Regions from separate parts of the Homo sapiens genome. Here region 2 is linked to region 1. Evidence: fine-mapped expression QTL. A gene starts in region 1. The other region holds a variant in brackets. All regions are shown on one strand. Distances are between the middles of the regions.

Evidence for each region. PIP is the estimated chance that this variant, and not a neighbour inherited with it, causes the effect. A credible set is the group of variants that fine-mapping cannot tell apart.
Region 2: its variant is the best candidate, but not a certain one, in a credible set for the expression of FXYD4 in lung (TOPMed, PIP 0.57).

The regions. Positions count from the first base shown.
Region 1 is chr10:43,367,152-43,378,633 of GRCh38, forward strand. FXYD4 (FXYD domain containing ion transport regulator 4) reads left to right here and starts at 4,485. Exons shown (of 9, transcript NM_173160.3): 1 at 4,485-4,546; 2 at 5,576-5,621; 3 at 6,364-6,632; 4 at 7,319-7,351; 5 at 7,462-7,488; 6 at 8,348-8,422; 7 at 8,544-8,583; 8 at 8,881-8,918; 9 at 8,996-9,184. The coding sequence starts at 6,596. The coding sequence ends at 9,015.
Region 2 is chr10:43,424,594-43,436,075 of GRCh38, forward strand. No RefSeq gene overlaps it. Among named protein-coding and RNA genes, the nearest start is that of ZNF487, 6.8 kb to the right of the region's middle. The variant CT/C (reference allele first, on the strand shown) is at 5,385.

The sequences.
Region 1 (11,482 bases):
TGACTATGATCTGAATCACATAACATTTCACAAGTCTGCTTCTTCTTTTTTTGAGACGGAGTCTCGCTCTGTTGCTCAGGCTGGAGTGCAGTGGCGCGATCTCAGCTCACTGCAAGCTCCGCCTCCTGGGTTCACGCTGTTCTCCTGCCTCAGCCTCCCGAGTAGCTGGGACTACAGGCGCCCGCCACCACGCCCGGCTAATTTTTTGTATTTTTAGTGGAGACGGGGTTTCACCGTGTTAGCCAGGATAGTCTCAATCTCCTGACTATATATATATATATATCTCATCCCATATATATATATATCTCATCCCATATATATATATATATACACACACACACGCACGCACACACACACAGGGTTTCACCCTGTCACTCAGGCTGGAGTGCAGTGGCGAGATCTCAGCTCACTGCAGCCTCTGCTTCCTAGGCTCAAGCTATCCTCCTGCCTCAGCCTCCCAAGTAGCTGGGACCACAGGTGTGCACCACCACGCCTGGCTAATTTTTTCTATTTTTGGTAGAGATAGGGTTTCACCATGTTGTCCAGGCTGATTCCATATGTTTTAATTTAAAAAATGAATAAATTGGCTGAGAGGAGTGGCTCACCACTATAATTCCAGCACTTTGGGAGTCCAAGGCAAGAGACCAAGAGTTCAAGATCAGCCTGGGCAACATAGTGAGACCTAGCCTTCACTTTTTTTTTTTTTGAGACGGAGTCTCGCACTGTTCCCTGGACTGGAGTGCAATGGCTGATCTCGGCTCACTGCAACCTCCACCCACTGGCTTCAAGTGATTCTCCTGCCTCAGCCTTCCGAATAGCTGGGATTACGGGCTCCCGCCACCATGCCCAGCTAATTTTTTGTATTTTTTAGTAGAGACGGGATTTCAGTATGTTGGCCAGGCTGGTCTCAAACTCCTGACCTCGTGATCCTCCCACCTCGGCCTCCCAATGTGCTGGGATTACAGGCGTGAGCTACCACCCCCAGCCTGACTCAGCCTTCATTTTATATACAAATATTTAAATTTTAAATAAATAAAGTGTTAAATAGAACTTCCTCCTAAAGAAAGACTACCTCAACTGATCAGATCATTTTTTTTTTGAGATGGAGTTTCACTCTTGTTGCCCAGGCTGGAGTGCAATGGCGCAATCTTGGCTCACTGCAACCTCTGCCTCCTAGGTTCGAGCAATTCTCCTGCTTCAGCCTCCCAAGTAGCTGGGATTACAGGCATGCGCCACCACGCCCGGCGAATTTTGTGTTTTTAGTAGAGATGGGGTTTCTCCATGTTGGTCAGGCTGATCTCGAACTCCCGACCTCAGGTGATCCACCTGCCTCGGCCTCCTAAAGTGCTAGGATTACAGACGTGAGCCACCACACTCGGCCCAGATCATTATAACTATGCATTAAACCTTAAATTTTAAAAGTTAAAATTCAGCCAGCGGCAGTGGGTGGCTCACATCTGTAATCCCAACACTTTAGGCAGCCAAGGGAAGTGAATCACTAGAGCCCAGAAGTTTGAGACCAGCCTGGGCAACATGGCAAAACTGTCTCTACCAAAAAAAATACAAAAATTAGCCTGGCGTGGTGGCGTGCACTTGTAGTCCCAGCTACGCAGGAGGGTGAGGCAGGAGAATTGCTTGTTCCAGAAGGTCGAGGCTGCAGAGAGCCATGACTGTATCATTGCACTTCAGCCTGGGCGACAGAGGGAGACCCTGTCTCAAAAAAGATTAAAAAAACAGCTAAAATCCTGTTAAACGTTCCTAAACTGTGTCTATATAAACGATCCCAGGCCAGGCACGGTGGCTCATGCCTGTAATCCCAGCACTTTCGGAGTCCGAGGCAGGTGGATCACTTGAGGTCAGGAGTTTGAGACCAGCCTGGTCAAAGTAGTGAAACACTGTCTCTACTAAAAATAGAAAAAATTAGCTGGGCATGGAGGCTCGGGCCTGTAATCTCAGCTACTCAGGAGGCTGAGGCACAAGAATCACTTGAACCCAAAAGGCGGAGGTTATAGTGAGCAGAGATCGTGCCACTGCACTCTAGCTTGGGCAACAGAATGACTCTGTCTCAACAGAATGAGACTCTGTCTCAAAAAAATAAAAATAAAATAAATGATCCCAAACTTCTACATTTTACGTATTTATTGTGAGACAGGTCTCCCTCTGTCACCCAGGCTGGAGTGCAGTGGTGCTTTCTGGGCTCACAGCAGCCTTGACCTCCCATGCTGAAGCGATCCTCCCACCTCTGCTGGAGTATAGGTGTGTGCCACCACGCCAGGCTGTTTGTTCTATTTTTTTTTGTAGAGATGGGGTCTCGCTATGTTGCCCAGACTGGTCTCAAACTCCTGGGCTCAAGTGATCTGCCCACCTTGGCCTCCCAGAGTGTCAGGATTTAACCCCCACACTCCACCGAGACTTTAAAACTCTGACTTCCATTCTTCTCTTTTTTTCTTTTTTAAGATGGAGTCTCGCTCTGTCGCTGAGGCTGGAGTGCGGTGGCACGATCTCAGCTTACTGCAACCTCCGCCTCCCAGGTTCAAGCGATTCTCCTGCCTCAGTTTCCCAAGTAGCTGGGACTACAGGAGCGCGCCACCACGCCCGGCTAATTTTTGTATTTTTAGTAGAGACGGGGTTTCACCTTGTTGGCCAGGCTGGTCTTGAACTCCTGATCTCATGTTCTGCCCTCCTCAGCCTCCCAAAGTGCTGGGATCACAACCGTGAGCCACCGCCCCCAGCCATGACTTCCATTCTTTACCATCCTTACTTCCTGAGCAGGCCATCCTTAACCTTTACACTTAAATAAACTCCTTTAAACTAAAATCTAACCTGTTTGACTATTGTAGATTGACAGGCTAATGAGAGTATGAACCTCCAAAGACTTCTGTGAGGGCTAGGTGCAGTCATATATGCAATGAACTCAAGTAAACAGCTGGCTGAGGAAACACCGGGACGCCTCCTCTGTGCTAAGCCCCATGCAGCATGCACACAGACACAGGCCCACCTCAGCCTCCCAAAGTGCTGGGGTTACAGGCGTGAGCCGCCTTTCCCAACCAATATTTTATATTTTTACACAAGTGACAGCATCCTATTCAGACTGCCCTATACTTTTTTTCCACTTAAAAGTATGTCTGGGCCAGACATAGTGTCTCACACCTGTAATCCCAGCATTTTGGGAGGCCGAGGCAGTGGATCGCCTGAGGTCAGGAGCTCGAGACCAGCCTGCTCAACATAGCGAAATCCCATCTCTACTAAAAATACAAAAATTAGCTGGGCACAGTGGTGTGTGCCGGTAATCCCAGCTACTCGGGAGGCTGAGACAGAATTGCTTGAACCTGGGAGGTGGAGGTTGTGGTGTGCCAAGATCGAGCCACTGCACTCCAGCTTGGGCGACAGAGCGAAATTCCAGCTCAAAAATAAATATATAAATAAACAAACAAACCAACTAAACCATCATTGCCCTCCCCAGCCCTCCCAGCCCAGAGACCCCCATCCCTTGTCAGCCATCCCCCCTTACCTTCTGGACAGGGACAAGTGTCCCTCATTTGGAAAAGAATTAAGGAGGGGTAACAGCAGACTAGGGAGGCCTGGGGTCCTCCACACGCCTGTGTGGGGTGACTTTGGCCCCCAGCAACAAGGCAGGCCTGAGGTCTGCAGAGGGAGGCAGCCCACTCCTCAGCCGGGGGCGTCTATCCTCCTCCTGGCCCCATCCCTCACCTGTGGGGGAGGCTAAGTGGGTGTCAGGGCCCTGTCAGAGGGTGAGCCACCCCCGGGGGTGCCCATCGGCCACCAGCCTCCCTTCAGTAGACACCCAGCCCAAGTGACAGCAGTGGCATGGCACTGCTGAGCACAGGGAGCCTCAAGGTCAGTGCCTGGCTCCTGGTATCCTCCGTGGTCCCCAGGACACCCCCACACAGAGGTCCCAGAACCCCCAAAGCTGGCACAAGAGCCCAGGAACACCCTGCCCAGCACCCTCCAGGTCCCTCTTTTAGGATCTGGGTGAGCTAAAGAAGCCAAAAGAAAGGCTGGGCGCGGTGGCTCACGCTTGTAATCCTAGCACTTTGGGAGGCCGAGGTGGGCGGATTGCCTGAGCTCAGGAGTTGGAGACCAGCCTGGGCAACACATTGAAACCCCATCTCTACTAAAATACAAAAAAAATTAGCCAGGTGTGGTGGCGTGCACCTGTAGTCCCAGCTACTCGGGAGCCTGAGGCAGGGGAATTGCTTGAACCCAGGAGGCAGAGGTTGCAGTGAGCTGAGATTGCATCACTGCACTCCAGCCCGGGTGACAGAGTGAGACTCCATCTCAAAAAAAGAAAAAAAAAAAAAAAAAAAAAAAAAAAAGAAGCCAAAAGAGGGTCTTCGGCCCAGCCCGCCCCTCCCCAACAGCCCTGGGTGTGGCAGGGAGCCTGACCAGTTCCCTCCAGCCTGCGTCATGGAGCCCTGGGCGTGGCTGCAGGGTTTAAAGAGCCGACCCACGTGCCCAGCAGCCTCCTCAGATCCGTTCTCTGCGCTGCCAGCTCAGGTGAGCCCTCGCCAAGGTGACCTCGCAGGTGAGCAGGCGTCCACTTTGGGGCTGCTGGGTGAAGGGGGTGGGTGCCCAAGAATTCTGAGTAATGAGGAGCCTGTTGAGGGGTCTGAGGACAGATATGGCTGCAGCAGCCGCTTGAAGGCCTCCTGCTTTGCACCCACTATCATATGGATGGTGGGTTGGGGGTTGGAGGAAACAGAAGCCAGCCCTTGGCTAAAGAATATATGAGCTGGTGGGGTATACCTCTGGTCCCAACTGCTTGAGATACTCAGGTGAGGAGATCACCTGAGCCAAGAGAGTTCAAGGCTGCAGTGAGCCGAGATCACGCCACTGCTCTCCATCCTGGGTAACAGAGCAAGACCCTGTCTCAAAAAAAAAAAAAATAGTAATAATAATAATAATAAAATAAAAAATGTGACCTAGAGTTGAGACCCTCGTATTCCAGGAACTCCAGGTTGGTGAAGGTAGAGAGACCAGTGAAGGCTGGGGGAAGCCAGCTTTGGAGACTGCTCCTAGCCCAAGAACCGATGTTCAGAAGCAGTGCCTAACAGTCTCTCCCTCCAGTGCCTCCCTCCCACTGCAGAAGGACCATGTGTTTATTTATGGATGTATTTATTTATTTATTTTGAGATGGAGTCTCCCTCTGTTGCCCAGGCTGGAGTGCAGTGCCAGGATCTCGGCTCACTGCAACCTCCACCTTCCAGGTTTAAGTGATTCTCCTGCCTCAGCTTCCCAAGTAGCTGGGAATACAGGCGCCTGTCACCACACTCAGCTAATTTTTGTATTTTTAGTATAGATGGGGTTTTGCCATGTTGGCCAGGCTGATCTTGAACTCCTGACCTCAGGTGATCCACCCGCCTCAGCCTCCCAAAGTGCTGGGATTATAGGTGTGAGCCACTGCGCCCGGCCTATGGATGTATTTATTGTAACAGGTTTTTAGTGCTTACTGTGTGCTAGGCATAGTTCTTAGGCTTGACAAATAGTAGTTCACGTAATTCCATCGCTATAACCTTATGAGGTTGCTACTATTCTGATGATCCTCCTTTTACAGGACACTGGTGAAGGAGCAGTGAGGAACCTGCAGAGTCACACAGTTGGTAAGTTGCTAAGAAGGGACCCAGCCCAGACAGCTGGCCCTGGATCTGTGATCTCATCAGGAGGCCAGAGCTGGGTACAGCAGATGATGACAATGGCTTCAGTATTGAAAACTTGACCACACTAGGCTAACAATATGCAGAGGGCTGGGAGGGGGCCTGCGCTCAAAGACTCAGCCTCCCTAAGGACAAGTAAATGGGGTCCTGGCTACTTCCAACCTGAGGGGGAAATGTCATACCACAGGAGGTCTATACTCTGAGAGCAGAATCTGGGTCTGCTGGAGTAGGGTCCCCTGCCAGGGCTGGCAGGGGAGGTCCTGGCTGCTGCAGTCATCTCATCCCAGGACTCAGCACTCCCTCCCTCCTCCACACCCTTGCTTTTGTGGAGGCTCTCTGGGAATTCAGACTGAGGGTGCTGGACTCTGGCCACCCCAGGCCCAGACCTTTGGGAACAATAGCCTGGGGCCTGATAACAATGCCCTTTGTGTGGGGTTAGGAAGGCAGGCTCCAGACCCTGACTTAGAATAGCAGCCACCTGACCCTGGGCATCTGATTACACCTCTCTAAGCTCCATTTTTTTTTTTCTTCTCTGAAATAGAGACAATAATAGTATCTTCCTCATGGGGAGGAGTAGGGGGTGGGTTTGTCGCATGGATTTTAACAACGCCTTCTACAGCACTTACTCTGTGCAGGCACAGTTTTGAGCTCTTAGCTTGTGCTTACTCAATCCACACAACTCCCCCAGGCCACCACCATCTCTAGATGGGAAGACAGAAAGTAGTTACTTTCCCAAGATCTCCCCACAAGCAAGTGTATCCTTGGGGTTTGTACACCTACTTTCACCATGGGGCTCTGCCTGCCCCCGCCCCTGCCTCCTCTCGCTGACCAATTGAGCTGTGAGCCTGGAGCAGATCCGTGGGCTGCAGACCCCCGCCCCAGTGCCTCTCCCCCTGCAGCCCTGCCCCTCGAACTGTGACATGGAGAGAGTGACCCTGGCCCTTCTCCTACTGGCAGGTGAGTCCTCCCAGTCTCCTGGGACCCTCTTGCATTCACCCCACCCACAAAGGCAGCAAAAGCCAGACAACATCTCCTTTGGGAGTCTGGTGTTCAATCAGCATGCTTTATTTAAACTGCCAATTTAGAGAGAAACATGAAGGAAATGACAGTACAGGTAGGATGAGAATATTGCAAAAAGGTCCTAATAGCTCCAGAGGAATTGAACCATGGAAAACATTAACCACCTGTGGCTTGAAGACAAAAGCAGGGTGGCACAGCGGCTCAGGCCTGTAATCCCAGTGTTTTGGGAGGCCAAGGTGGGAGGATCACTTGAGCCTGGGAGGATCACTTGAGCCTGGGAGGTCGAGGTTGCAGTGAGCTAGGATTGCACCATTGCACTCCAGCCTGGGTGACAGAGAGAGGTTCCGACTCATAAAAAAGACAAGCATTCCCTGTTTCTTCAGGGGGCAGAGACATAACAAACCATCCCAGTCAGCATGCACACAGGAGCATCAGGAAGCCTGGGACAGCAGGGCTTGGGCGGGGCCACACCCTGAGGCTGTGTGGGGCTGGGGAGGGCGTGAGGAAGGGAACTGGTGGCTCCAGGGTCACCCCACAACCTCCGGGCTGGGGTCCTGCTGTCTGGCTTACTTGGACACCAGTGTCATGAATTCCCACACATTTTCTCTGCTCCTCCCACACAGGCCTGACTGCCTTGGAAGCCAATGACCCATTTGGTGAGTGAGGCCCCCAAACAGCCTGCCCACTCTGCCCACATCTCCCCTCTGACACCCACATCCTGTCTCCTGGTTCTGGTTCTGAAGTCTTTTTGCCCCACTTTTTCTAGCCAATAAAGACGATCCCTTCTACTATGGTAAGAGCTGATATTCCCACCCCCACCCTACCCTTGCCTATCCTGGACCTCTTTGCTAGACAAGTTGGTGAGGGGTAGTGTGGACCTAGTGTAGACAAAGTGGGATGGGGGATTAAACCTGGTCTCTGTGAGAGCGTCGCTCCAACAAGGGGAGGGTGGCCACAGGATGCTTAGGAACCCTCCTGGAGAAGGGCTGGTGCCTGGGTGGTTAGGCACCCCGATAAATCACCCCTACCCTCTTGCCTTCACTCACCCTCACCCTCCCTTTCCCTAGTCCCCAGCCCTCAGGCAGTCCTCCTCTCCTCCTCTCCCCTGGGCCTCAGCTCCAGGACAGCTTTCCTTGATCATCCTTCAAAGCCCTTTCTTTGCGCATGTCCACTTCTTTTTTTTTTTTTTTTTTTTTTTGAGACAGATTCTGACTCTGTCGCCTAGGCTGGAGTACAGTGGCATGATCTCGGGTCACTGCAACCTCCATCTCCCGGGTTCAAGCAATTCTCCTGTCTCAGCCTCTCGAGTAGCTGGGACTACAGGCGCCTGCCGCCACGCCTAGCTAATTTTTGTATTTTTAGTAGAGATGGGGTTTCACCATATTGGTCATGCTGGTCTCGAACTTCTGACCTCAGGTGATCTGCCCGCCTCGGCCTCCCAAAGTGATGGGATTACAGATGTGAGCCACCGCACCCAGCCTCACTTTTTTTCTTCTTAGTGTTTCCCCACGAGACGCAGAATGATGCCTCTGTTGCTGGCTTGTCTTTATGTATATGGCAGCGGCTGGCACAAGCAGGGGCTCAGGAGTGTCTTTTGAATGAATGACTGAGGCCCCAGGCTGGTGCAAGCTCACTCTCTGTACCCACCCCAGACTGGAAAAACCTGCAGCTGAGCGGACTGATCTGCGGAGGGCTCCTGGCCATTGCTGGGATCGCGGCAGTTCTGAGTGAGTGGCAGGACAGGTGGGGCTGGAGGACAGGGTGGGGCTGGCGGACAGGGTGGGGCAGAAAGAGAGAGTGCTCTCATTCCAGCACTGACCCTGGCGCTGACCCCTCTCTCTCTCCCAGGTGGCAAATGCAAATGCAAGAGCAGCCAGAAGCAGCACAGGTGAGCCTGACCCTATGGTGCCCTCCTCCTTCGGGGCAGAACTACGGGGGGACAGTCCTGACCTGGAGAGTGGACAGCATCCTGGCCACTCGCTGGGCTTGCAGCTGGCTTTGTTATTCAGATAGTCAACCCTGAAGGGCCCCAGTCAGGAAAGCTCTGACCTCGGTATTGTGGGAAGTGACCATGGAAGGAGAGCAAGGACTTGCACTCCTGGGGCCGGGCAGCAAGAGTCTGGGATATAGGGGAGAAGGTCCTCCAGGCTAACCTGATACTACTCTGATGTGGTCCTTTCTCTAGTCCTGTACCTGAGAAGGCCATCCCACTCATCACTCCAGGTGAGACGGGCTTCTGTGGGCTGAGGGGGTGTCTGTGTAAGGACTGTGTCTGATGGCCTGCCCGCCACTCTCCGCAGGCTCTGCCACTACTTGCTGAGCACAGGACTGGCCTCCAGGGATGGCCTGAAGCCTAACACTGGCCCCCAGCACCTCCTCCCCTGGGAGGCCTTATCCTCAAGGAAGGACTTCTCTCCAAGGGCAGGCTGTTAGGCCCCTTTCTGATCAGGAGGCTTCTTTATGAATTAAACTCGCCCCACCACCCCCTCCTCGGTAGTCTTGTGATCCATCGTCTTTGGGTCTGGGGGTGGGTAATCCCTTGGATTGCTGACTTTCCCTGGATGCCCACTCCCAGCAAGCTTCCCAGTCCCTGAGTCCCTGCCGCCCAACTGTCTCCTATGGCTCCCACTCCAGCAAGCCCCACAGAGAGACCCATGCACTGTGAGATACCACAGTGTTATAACAGAAGACCTTTCCATTTCCACCACTTGCACGGGGGCCCTAGAAGTCCTGATGCCTCAGGTACCCATGACTTCCTTTAATCTAGAGCGACCCCCAGGGCTCACCCCCCCATTGAGACCTCAATTGAGACCCCCCATTGAGACCTCACCCAGTGAATGCTCTCTATGGTAGAAAATGTAGCAATTCCTTTGACCCATCCCAGTAAAATCCTCAGCTCACCCCATGGGCCCCCCTCCTCCCAGGAAATATCCTGTGAAATTCCATGAAGAAGTATGTCTCGAGAAGCCCTGCATAGTGCATGTGGGAGACAAACACCATGTGTGCAAATCCAAGTTCTTTGGCATGCCTGAACTCCCCTCCAGGAAGACTTCCCTGGCAATGTCCCTGTGGCACCCCAGGCAGGGGTGTGAAGTGCCACTTCTGCCTGGTGCCCATCCTGCAGTCCTGCCCCTTGACAGCCCAGGAGAAGGAACTGAGACCACTTCTAGCCTCTGCCTCCAGCAAAGGCCAGAGAACAATGGAGTCCCCGCCAGGTGGCAGCTCCCAATCTGAGGCCAGGGCTTGGGCTGGGCAGCTGTCTCCAATGATGCACCCTTCCTCCATGTCTCAGGGTGGGCCACATCCTTGAGAAGTATGATGTATCCTAGACTTAGGGTCACCTGCCTTGTGGGTGGGGTCAGAGACTTGTGCAGGGCCCCAGAGGTGTAAAAATGAGGTCCACATGTCTTCCAGGGCCTTTGAAACAGGACACGTAGGGACTGAGAGCAAGGTTCCAAGGTGGGGCTGAGTGGGACTAAAGATACCTGGCTGAGTCCAGCCACTATCAGGGAATCTTGGGTGGGTCACAGAAGGCCTGGCAAGCCCCAGTGCTTTGGGGAAGCTGTCCTGTACCAGCAGCCCCAGGTGGTATGGCCAGCCCAGAGGCAGCGCTGAGTCTGCACAGGTGGACCTAGGGAGGGGCCTGTGCGCAAACCACCCTGGTGGAGGGAATTAGCAGCACGACTGGAATGCAGGCGATAGGATCACTGAGGAGGCAAGGCCCAGCCCTGCAGGACGCAGAGGCAGGGGTGGGAGCCACCCAGCAGGGCTGGTAGAAGGGGGCTCCTGAGCACGCCTCCTCATCCAGGGGGTGCAGTGCAGAGCTCTCTCCTCGTTGGCACGGGAAGACGCTGGTGTGAGAGACTGCTTTTGAGAACATGAAAAGTGCGGTAAGAAAGCCAAGTCTGGAGTGGCAGACCCAGGGGAAGCCACACAAAGGTGACCGGAAGCAGTGCATGCTTTCTGACTGAGGAACCCAGGGCCACGCAGTCACGACTATCAGGAGCTCTGCTGTTTGAAATCCTAGCAAACCCTGTCCTTGCATGGTGGCCCCATGACCCTGACAAGAGATGCAGCCTCAACTTCCAACCCCAGTGCCCCACTGGGGAGCAGAGGTTTCTGGACGTGACAGCCACCCACCTCCACCTTCACATGTATCCTGGGGCCACGTCGTGGTGGAGACCTGCCGCTCTTCTTTCAAGCTCTCATGCTGCTTCATTTAAACTTCTCCTGGACAGGTGTCACAGTTCCCCCAAGTCCTATAAGTGACCACTTATGTAGGAGGCCCCACCACACGAGTCCCTAGGTGTGACTGTCCAGTGACAGGCTTATCTCTCTGATGTGGAGGGTGACGGCTCTCGCTCATGGAACCTGGGAAAATCATGGTGGGAGGAGTCAGAAACTGATGGGAGGCCAGGTCTGGATGACAGTGGAGGATGGAGTCAGTGTTAGCCCCAGATGGACAAGGCCAGGCCCTGGAGTTGGGACCCTGGTTCCCAGGGGAAACGAGCTCTCCTCTCTCCCTTCTGGGAGTGAGGAATGGGCTGACTAGGGCATGACAGAGGCTCTCCAGGCTTCCCTTTGTGGGATTACTGGCTGTGCGTCAGAGACCCCTTCCTGGGGCCTGTTTCAGAGCTGGTGGGTGATTTCCCCTTGTCATCCTCTCCTAGTTGAGGGGCTGTGGGGAGAGGTAGGGGGGACCAGAGAAAGCAAAGTGTCATTTCCACTCAATTGGGGATTTACTGAGTGACAGACACCACTGTAAACACTTCACACATGTCAAATTT
Region 2 (11,482 bases), 57 kb after region 1:
TGTGAATAACAAATGTACATGATCAGTGACAAGTTGCGTAATTTCTTTGAAAGTCTGTTATTTCGTTCACTCATGCACAGAAAGGCATGTGGTTGTGTTGCTTCTTGTCTCCCACCATACCGGGCCTCTTGGTAGGTTTTTACAAAGAAAACTAATTCTCAATATTTCTTTCTTTCTCTTTTCTTTTCTTTTTTTTATTGTTGTTGTTGGGGGATGGAGTCTCACTCTGTCACCCAGGCTGGAGTGCAATAGTGTAATCTCAGCTCACTGCAAACTCCGCCTCCCGGTTCCAAGTGATTCTCCTGTCTCAGCCTCCCAAGTAGCTGAGACTACAGGCGCCCACCACCACACCTGGCTAATTTTTGTATTTTTAGTAGAGACAGGGTTTCACCATGTTGACCAGGCTGGTCTCAAACTCCTGACCTCAGGTGATTTGCCCAACTTGGCCTCCCAAAGTGCTGGGATTGTAAGTGTGAGCCACTGCGCCTGGCCTCAATATTTCTAATGTATTAAATTACATAGTACCAGATAAATATTAGTTTTACTATTTTCATTTCCCTGTACATTTCAAACTGAAAGAGTTTTTAATGTTTTGGCAAAAAATTTTGAAAGTCACAGAACAATCATAATTTTTCTCATTGATCATTAAGATTGCTTTGCATGGTATCAGCTTGTATGCTCACTTTTACAGTCTTACACTACTTTGTACTTATGGTATGGTACTTATAGTACTTTTTACTGGGCAAAGCAAGGAGACACACACATGCATACACACATAGCAAATAAATCAGTCTGGCTTGAGAGGAAGATGGTTAGAATAGGACTCAGGCACAGTGGGTTTCTGTGCAGCTATTCACCATTTAGGCAACTTTTCCAAAGTTGCTTAGCTTAGCTTCCCTGGGATAAGTTTTCTGGACAGCAAAATAATGGGTCTTTTTTTTTTTTTGAGACAGAGTCTCGCTCTGTCGCCCAGGCTGGAGTGCAGTGGCACCATCTCGGCTCACTGCAAGCTCCGCCTCCTGGGTTCACACCATTCTCCTGCCTCAGCCTCCTGAGTAGCTGGGACTACAGGCGCCCGCCACCACGCCCAGCTAATTTTTTGTATTTTTAGTAGAGATGAGGTTTCACCCTGTTAGCCAGGATGGTCTCAATCACCTGACCTCGAGATCTGCCCACCTCAGCCTCCCAAAGTGCTGGGATTACAGGCGTGAGCCACCGCGCCCAGCTATAACGGGTCTTAACTGGGACTCTTTCTCTTCTATCCCAGCCAGTCTCACTTCTGCCAGCCAGGCCTAACTTTCATCCCTTAAGAGAGAGAGGGCCACTTGATTCAATATACAACGAAGTAATGAATACTGAATCTATAAGTAAGTCTACCGATATCTGTAAAAGCAGTGAAAAGCAATTTGGTTTCCTAAAAATGTTAACTATAAATATTATTTCCTATCAGTTTGCTGATTTCCTGTAAGTTGGCTGACTTAGCCACAAAGTTAGTTTTCATTCATCTTGACCACACCTGACAGGTCTGTTTCCATGGCTGGGATCCTCTCCCCATGGTTCTTTCTGGTGCTGAAATGCACTTGGGCAACCATGCCCCTTAAATGTGCCTTTATGGGTTAGATGTGGTGGCTCATGTCTGTAATTCCAGCACTTTGGGAGGCTAAAGCAGGAGAATTACTTGAGGTCAGCTGGAGACCAGCCTGGGCAACATAGTGAGACCCCCCTCCCCCTCAATCTCTTTAAAAAAATGTTTTTGGCCGGACACGGTGACTCATGCCTATAATCCCAGCACTTTGGGAGGCCGAGGCAGATGGATCACCTGAGGTTGGGAGTTTGAGACCAGCCTGGCCAACATGGAAAAACCCCCGACTCTACTAAAAATACAAGATTAGCCAGGTGTGGTGGCGCTTGCCTGTAATCCCAGCTACTCAGCAGGCTGAGGCAGGGGAATCGCTTGAACCCAGGAGACAGAGGTTGCAGTGAGCCGAGATGGCGCCATTGCACTCCAGCATGGGCAACCTGAGTGAGACCCTGCCTCAAAAAAAAACAAAAAAAAAAACAAAAAAAAACGGCCAGTCATGGTGGCTTACGCCTGTAATCTCACCACTTTGGGAGGCCAAGGCGGGTGGATCACCTGAGGTCAGGAGTTTAAGACTAGCCTAACCAACATGGTGAAACTCTGTCTCTACTAAAAATACAAAAATTAGCCGGGTGTGGTGGCGGGCGCCTGTAATCCCAGCTACTTGGGAGGCTGAGGCAAAAGAATCGCTTGAACCCGGGAGGTGGAGGAGGTTGCAGTGAGCTGAGATCATGCCATTGCACTCCAGCCTGGACGGCAGCCTGAGACTATCTCAAAAAAAAAAAAAAGAAAAAAAAAAAGAAAAAGAAAATACATGTAGGCCGGGCATGGTGGCTGACGCCTGTAATCCCAGCATTTTGGGAGGCCGACGTGGGCCTATCACTTGAATTCAGTAGTTTGAAACCAGCCTGGCCAACCAATAGTGAAACCCTGTCTCTAATAAAAATTTAAAAATAAGCCAGGCATGGTGGTGCGTGCCTGGAGTCCCAGTTACTTGGGAGGCTGAGGCAGGAGAATCACTAGAACCCAGCAGGGAGGCTGAGGGAGCAGAATCACTAGAATCCAGGAGGCGGAGGTTGCAGTGGGCTGAAATCACACCACTGCACTCCAGCTTGGGTGACAGAGGAGACTGTCTCAAAAAAAAAAAAAAAAAAGAAACCAAAACCAAAAAAACCACAAAATACATGTGAACATGTGCTCACTTCAGCAGCATATATAGTAAGATTAAAATGCACATGAACTCTTACGGAAAAAATATTTCTAGTAGTCAGCAAATACTGAAAATTTATTGAGCTCTGTGCCTGATGGTATAGAAGTTAAGAAGAATTAAACTGTTCTGTCCTTGCTTTTATTTATTTTTTAACGTGTTGGATACCAGCATCCTTGCTTTTTTTTTTTTTGAGACAGAGTCTCGCTCTATCGCCCGGGCTGGAGTGCAGTGGTGCGATGTTGGCTCATTGCAACCTCCGCCTCCTGGGTTCACGTGATTCTTCTGACTCAGCCTCCTGAGTAGCTGGGATTACAGGCATGCACCACCATGACCAGATAATTTTTTATATTTTTAGTAGAGACAGGGGTTCACCATGCTGGCCAGGCTGGTCTCAAACTCCTGACCTCGTGATCTGCCCGCCTCGGCCTTCCAAAGTGCTGGGATTACAGGCGTGAGCCACCGCGCCTGGCCAGCATCCTTGCTTTTTAGAGCGCTTACTGCCAAGCTGAGGGATAAGTCAGATATTATACGTTTTCAGAAAAGAAGACACATGCAGGAGCTGCATGTAATTGGAAACAAACAGAATATTTGAGAATTGAAAAGTTTGATTAAATCACACAGCAATGAAATATAAAGACTAATATAAAAATAGCACATTTCCAATCAATCCTTATCTGAAATAAATGTATATTGTGCACCTGTTAGGAACCCTATACTGTACTAAAAACTAAATTAAAACCAACCACATTAAGCCCTTGAAGCAAAGTCAGAGCAAACCCTCCTGAAGCCTATGGAGCAGCGCTCCTTCACCCTCCGTTTCAGATATCAAGTCCCTGTGCTGTTCATAAATGAGACAACCTTACAATAAGCTGCTTTCAATTCATAGACATTGGGTCAGTGCCTTTGGTGTGAAGTCATCCATGTTAGGGTACAATTTCATGAGTCGACAAACGGAGTTAGAGTAAGCTCCCTATGCCTCCATTCTGAGAAATTTTGCATCCACAGAGTAAAAGTCGATGGATAGCATATTAGGAGGCTGCATTTTTCTTCTATACTTTTTTTTTTTTTAGACAGAGTCTCACTCTGTTGCCTAGCCTGGAGTGCAGTGACGCAATGTTGGATCACTGTAACCTCTGCCTTCTGGGTTCAAGCGATTCTACTGCCGCAGCCTCCTGAGTAGCTGGGATTATAGGCATGTGCCACCACGCCTGGCTAATTTTTGTATTTTTAGTAAAGTTGGGGTTTTACCATGTTGGCCAGGCTGGTCTCGAACTCCTGACCTCAAGTGATCCACTCACCTCAGCCTCCCAGAATGTTGGGATTACAGGCATGAGCCACTGCGCCCGGCCTCTTCTATACATATTAGTAAAACTCCCACAGCATACTGCAGCATATTGTGAAATAACAGAATAATAAGCAAGGCTTGTCAGATAAAGGGGTTCCAACCCTTCAGGGTAAGTCAAGAAAGGCAGTACCTTAGCATACAGACTGAGCAACAGGTCAGGTTTAAGATAGGACTTCCATTGTTCTGTCTCAGACTAGAGCTCATTGTATGATACAGGGGCCATTTAGCCATGAAAAGTTGTTGAGCACCTGAAATGTGGTTAGTTTGGCCAGGCGCGGTGGCTCACGTCTATAATCCCAGCACTTTGGGAGGCCAAGGCTGGCGGATGACGTGATCAGGTGATCGAGACCATCCTGGCTAACATGGTGAAACCATGTCTCTACTAAAAATACAAAAAATTAGCCAGGCGTGGTGTCACGCACCTGTAGTCCCAGCTACTCGGGAGGCTGAGGCCGGAGAATCACTTGAACCCGGGAGGCAGCGGTTGCAGTGAGCCGAGATCGCACCACTGCACTCCAGCCTGGGTGAAAGAGCGAGATTCTGTCGCGAAAAAAAAAAGAAATGTGGTTAGTGCCACTGAGAGGCTGACTTTTTATTTTATTGTATTGTATTATTTTTTGAGCCAGGGTCTTGCTTTGTCTGTAATCCCAGCACTTTGGAAGGCTGGGGTGGGTGGATCACCTGAGGTTGGGAGTTCGAGACCAGCTTGGTCAACATGGTGAAACCCCGTCTCTATTACAAATACAAAAATGAGCCAGGTGTGGTGGCATGCGCCTGTAATCCCAACTACTAGGGAGCCTGAGGCAGGAGAACTGCTTGAACCCAGGAGGCAGCGGTTGCAGTGAGCCAAGATGGTGCCACTGCACTCCAGCCTGGGCAACACAGCAAGACTCCGTCTCAGAAAGAAAAACAACAATAAACTCCACTGTATGTATATACCACATTTTGTTCATCCATTCATCTAACCAGTGGACACTTGACTCACCTCTATCTTTTGACTATTGTAAATAATGCTGCTATGAAGATGAACATACAATATCTGAGTTTCTGCTTTGAATTCTTTTGCATATATACCCAAAAGTGGTACTGCTGGATCGTATGTATGGTAATTCTGTTTCCTGAGGATCTGCCAGAACTCTTTTCCATAGTGCTGCACCATTTTACATTTCTATCAACAGTACATAGAGCTGACATTTCTTCATGTCCTTGCCTTAAATTTAAAAACAAATACTCATTCAGTTATTAGAAGA[CT/C]TTTTTTTTTCCTTTTGAGACAAGAGTTTTGCTCTTGTTGCCCAGGCTGGAGTGCAATGGCATGATCTCGGCTCACTGCAACCTCTGCCTCATGGGTTCAAGTGATTCTCCTGCCTCAGCTTCCTTAGTAGCTGGGATTACAGGTGCCCACCACCACGCCCAGCTAATTTTTTTGTATTTTTAATAGAGACAGGGTTTCACTATGTTGGCCAGGCTGGTCTCGAACTCCTGATCTCAGGCAATCCACCCGCCTCGGCCTCCCAAAGTGCTGGGATTACAGGCATGAGCCACTGCGCCCGGCCTAGAAGACTTTTAAGTATGTTTAGAACAACTTGGGTATGTGAATCTACTTTTTCAACTATTATTTTATTTTATTTTTGAGACAGAGTGTTGCTTTGTCGCCAGGCTGGAGTGCAGTGGCCTGATCTCGGCTCACTGCAATCTCCACCTCCAAGGTTCAAGCGATTATCCTGCCTCACCTTCCTGAGTAGCTGGGACTGCAGGCACCCACCACCATGTCCAGCTAATTTTTGTATTTTTAGTAGAGACGGGGTTTCACCATATTGGCCAGGAAGGTCTCGATCTCTTGACCTCGTGATCTGCCCGCTTCGGCCTCCCAAAGTGCTGGGATTACAGGCTTGAGCCACTGCACCCAGCGTCAACTATTATTTTTATGGATTCTAAATAAAAATTAAGTATACCCAGGAAGATATAGCATATGCATTGAGATGTGCTGTAATACCAGGTTTCAAAGACAATACAGAAAAAAAGAATGTCAAATGTCTCATGGATAACTTTATTAATCACATGTGAAATATAATAGTTTGGATATATTGAATCAAATAAAATATTAACATTAATTTCACCCGTTTCTTTTTACTTTTATAAATGCAGCTAGTAGCAATTTTTTTTTTTTTTTGAGACAGAGTCCTGCTCTGTCGCCCAGGCTAGAGTGCAGTGGCGCGGTCTCGGCTCACCACAACCTCCGCCTCCTGGGTTCAAGCAATTCTCCTGCCCCAGCCTACGGAGTAGCTGGGATTACAGGCATGCGCCACCATGCCTGGCTAATTTTATATTTTTAGTAGAGACAGGGTTTCTCCATGTCAGTCAGGCTAGTCTTGAACTCCTGACCTCAGAGGATCCACCCACCTCTGCCTCCTACAGTGCTGGGATTACAGGCGTGAACCACTGTGCCTGGCTGGCTTATGTATTTCTATATTCTATTCTACAGCACTGCTACAGAGGTAGCCTCCACTCATACCACATAATTATGAAAGCCATCAGATTCTGGAAGACAGACTCCAAGCTGCAATTGCTGTAAGTCAAGTAATCCCTCTTCTCCCTCTTTTCTGCCCTTAACATGCACATTTATTTTCCTTTTATTATTGGATTCCCTGAATGGAAACATCTGTCCACTATTACTGCAGAAGGCTGGGCTGTCCCATGGTGACTGTCTGGTGTCCAGGCTTGAGTACCCTATTTTCTGTTTTGTTGGTTGTCCTGTACAGTGTTGATTAATTTCTGTGTCTGGGGAAGTCTAGGAGTAGGGGATGGGGCTGGGTGATGCTGACAACACCAAGAAAAGCTCAGGAGATGTGTCAATGTGTTTGCAGAGTCTAAAGAGATACCTTCCTTCCTTCTCTTTTGATTTGACAATGCCGCCTTACCAAAACTTTTCCTGTTCCTCCTGCAGATTTGTGGGTTTTATTTTTTATAGAGACAGGGTCCCACTGTGTTGCCCAGGCTGGTCTCAAACTCCTGGGCTTAATTGATCCTCCTGCCTCAGCCTCCCAAAGTGCTAGGATTATAGGTGTAAGCCACCACACTCAGCCACATTTGGGGTTTTAAATTTAATTTTATATTTATTTTAATTAATTATTTTGAGATAGAGTCTTACTCTGTTGCCCAGGCTGTAGTGCAGTGGCATGATCATGGCTCACTGTAGCCTCAACGTCCTGGGCTCAGGTGATCTTTCCACCTCAGCCTCCTGAGTAGCTGGGACCACCAGCACTTGCTACCACACCTAGCTAATTTTTTTGTATGTTTTCTGTAGAGACGGGTTTTAGCCATGTTCCCAGCCTGTTTTAGCTTATTAAAAAAAATTTTTTTTTTTTGAGACGGAGTTTTGCTCTTGTTGCCCAGGCTGGAGTGCAGTGGCGTGATCTCAGCAATTCTCTGCCTCAGCTTCTCGATTAGCTGGGATTACAGGTGCCCGCCACCACACCAGGAAAATTTTTGTATTTTTTATAGAGACAGGGTTTCACCATCTTGGCCAGGCTGGTCTTGAACTCCTGACCTCATGATCCACCTGCCTCAGCCTCCCAAAGTGCTGGGATTACAGGCGTGAGCCACCGCACCTGGCCTAAAATTTTTTTTTTTAGAGACAGGGTCTCACTACGTTGCTTAGGCTGGTCTTAAAGTTCCAGGCTCAAATGATTCTCTCACCACAGCCTCCTGAGTAGCTGGGATTACACGCATCAGCCCCTGTGCCTGGCTACATCTGTGGTTCTTTTTTTTTTTTTTTTTTTGAGATGGGGCCTCCCTATGTTGCAATGGCACGATCTCAGCTCACTGCAACATCTGCCTCCCAAGTTCAAGCGATTCTCTCACCTCTGCCTCCCCAGTAGCTGGGACTACAGGCTTGCGCCACTATGCCCAGCTAATTTTTGTATTTTTTTTTTTTTTGAGACAGAGTCTCGCACTGTTGCCTAGGCAGTGGCGTGATCTCGGTTCACTGCAACCTCTGCCTCCCAGGTTCAAGCGATTTTCCCACCTCAGCCTGCCGAGTAGCTGGGATTACAGGCGCCTGCCACCATGCCTGGCTAATTTTTTTTTGTTTTTTGAGGCGGAGTCTTGCTGTGTTGCCCAGGCTGGAGTGCAGTGGCGCAATCTCGGCTCACTGCAAGCTCCGCCTCCCGGGTTCACGCCATTCTCCTGCCTCAGCCTCCCGAGTAGCACTTTGGGAGGCCGAGGTGGGCAGATCACCTGAGGTCAGGAGTTTGAGACTAACCTGGCGAACATGGCAAAACCCCATCTCTACTAAAAATAAAAAAATTAGCTGGGTGCAGTGGCTCGCGTCTGTAATCCCAGCACTTTGGGAGGCCAAAGCAGGAGGATCACTTAAGCTCAGGAGTTCAAGACCAGCCTGGGCAACATGGTGAAACCTTGTCTCTACTAAAAATGCAAAAATGAGCCAGGCGTGGTGGTGTGTGCCTGTAGTCCCAGCTACTTGGGAGGATGAGGCAGGAGAATCGCTTGAACCTGGGAGGCAGAGGTTGCAGTGAGTCAAGATCACACCCCAGCACTCTAGCCTGGACAACATAGCAAGACTCAGTGTCCAAAAAAAAAAAAAAAAAAAGAAATGTTTGTTTTGGCCAGATGCAGTGGCTCACAGCTGTAATCCCAGCACTTTGGGAGGCCAATGCAGGAGGAGGATCACTTGAGCCCAGGAGTTAGAGACCAGCCTAGGTAACATAGCAAGTCTGTGTCTCTCCAAAAAAATTTAAAAATCAGCTGGGTGTGGCTAGGAACGGTGGCTCAACCCTGTAATCCCAGCACTTTGGGAGGCCAAGAAGGACAGATCATGAGGTCAGGAGTTTGAGACCAGTCTGGCCAACATAGTGAAACCCCCTCTCTACTAAAAACACAAAAAGTTAGCCGGGTGTGGTGGTGTGCGCCTGTAATCCCAACTACTCCGGAGGCTGAAGCAGGAGAATCCCGTGAACCTGGGAGGTGGAGGTTGCAGTGAGCCGAGATCGCACCATTGCACTCCAGCCCGGGAGACAGTGCGAGACACCATCTCAAAAAAAAAAAAAAAAAAAAATCAGCTGGGTGTGGTGGTGACCCCCTGTCGTCCCAGCTACCGGGAGGCTGAGAGGCTGAGGTGGGAAGATTGCTTGAGCTGTCAAGGCTGCAGCGAGCTGAGATCCTGCCACTGCACTCCTGGCTAGGGGATGGTGCAAGACCCTGTCTCAAAGAGTTAAAAAAAAAAAGAAAGAAAAATTTATTTTGATTTTTCATTAGAGTATAGGCTCTGAAGTTTCATTTGTGCATATGAGTTACGTATCCTTCATATATAAGTGTATCTATATTTGCCGTGTCTACCAGTCAGACTACAAAAGGCATACATATGGTGGAATGATGATTTGCTATTTCAGTGAATGCATATATTCCTCACTGTGAACTAGTTATTATTTGGGGCTGTTAGTTGCTGCAATGAGACATCACACCTCTGAAACCATGGGGTGTCTTAGGAGACTTGTTAGAGGGCTTGTTATACCATTTGGACTTGTGGCTGGTGATTTTGGGGAGGGTCCAAGGACAGGGGTGTGTTTTGGATTGGTGCTGTACTAACAGGGGCAACTCAAAGATTATTATTATTTTTTTTTTTGAGATGGAGTCTCGCTTTTTCACCCAAGCTGGAGTGCAGTGGCGCGATCTCGGCTCACTGCAGGCTCCGCCCCGCGGGGTTCACGCCATTCTCCTGCCTCAGCCTCCCGAGTAGCTGGGACTACAGGCGCCCGCCACCTCGCCCGGCTAATTTTTTGTATTTTTAGTAGAGACGGGGTTTCACCGTGTTAGCCAGGATGGTCTCGATTTCCTGACCTCGTGATCCGCCCGCCTCGGCCTCCCAAAGTGCTGGGATTACAGGCGTGAGCCACCGCGCCCGGCCACTCAAAGATTATTTCAACAATTTTAGGTGGGGCGCGGTGGCTCATGCCTGTAATCCCAGCACTCTGGGAGGCCGAGGCAGGCGATCACTTGAGGTCAGGAGTTTGAGACCAGCCTGGCCAACCTGGTGAAACCCCATCTCTACTAGGTGGCAGGTGCCTGTAATCCCAGCTATTCGAGAGGCTGAGACAGGAGAATTGCTTGAACCTGGGAGGCAGAGGTTGCAGTGAGCCGAAATTGTGCTACTTCACTCCAGCCTGGGCGACAGAGCAAGACTCCTTCTCAAAAAAAAAAAAAAAAAATTTTTTTTAAATCCAGAAAGCAGGAGGAATAGAGAGGAGCTAAAGCTGTCATTGGAGAAAAAGCAGTAATTACTCATGCTAGCTGAAGAAGGGATGTTTATTCTTCTGTGTGTGTGGTTGCGCAGTGCCAGTTTTTATTTATGCAGGCAAGATCACTGATCGGAATTATTTTCTCCTTCCCTCAGTCACAGAAAGAACTCGTCTGATATCAATTTTCTGTGAACCTGTTTATGTTCATCAAGTAATCCAGGCCAGCTACCGTGGGTCTCAGGGCTTTTTTTTTTTTTTTTTTTTTTTTTTGGGACAGAGTCTCGCTCTTGTTGCCCAGGCTGGAGTGCAATGGCGAGATCTCGGCTCACAGCAACCTCTGCCTCCCGGGTGCAAGCTATTCTCCTGCCTCAGCCTCCCGAATAACTGGGATCACAGGCATGTGCCACCACACCCAGCTAATTTTGAATTTTTAGTAGAGTTGGAGTTTCACCATGTAGGCCAGACTGATCTTAAACTCCTGATCTCAGGTGATCCACCCGCCTTGGCCTCCCAATGTGTTAGGATTACAGGCGTAAGCCACCACGCCCGGGCTTTTTATTTTTTTTCTTAATGATGCTGCACCTAATCACATTTAGGTGGCAGGCAAAAGAATATTGCTTAGCTGCTTTGCTACAGAAATGACAACTCTTGGGCAGGGGCGCGGTGGCTCACGCCTGTAATCCTACCACTTTGGGAGGCCGAGGCCAGTGGATCACCTGAGGTCAAGAGTTCGACACCAGGCCGGGCACGGTGGCTCATGCCTGTAATCCCAGCACTTTGGGAGGCCGAGACGGGCGGATCACGAGGTCAGGAGATCAAGACCAACCTGGCTAACACGGTGAAACCCCGTCTCTACTAAAAATACAAAAAATTAGCCGGGCGTGGTGGCGGGCGCCTGTAGTCCCAGCTACTCGGGAGGCTGAGGCAAGACAATGGCGTGACCCTGGGAGGCGGAGCTTGCAGTGAGCTGAGATCGCGCCACTGCACTCCACCCTGGGTGACAGAGCGAGACTCCGTCTCAAAAAAAAAAAAAAAAAAAAAAAAAAAGAGTTCGACACCAGCCTGGCCAAAATGGTGAAACCCCATCTCTACTA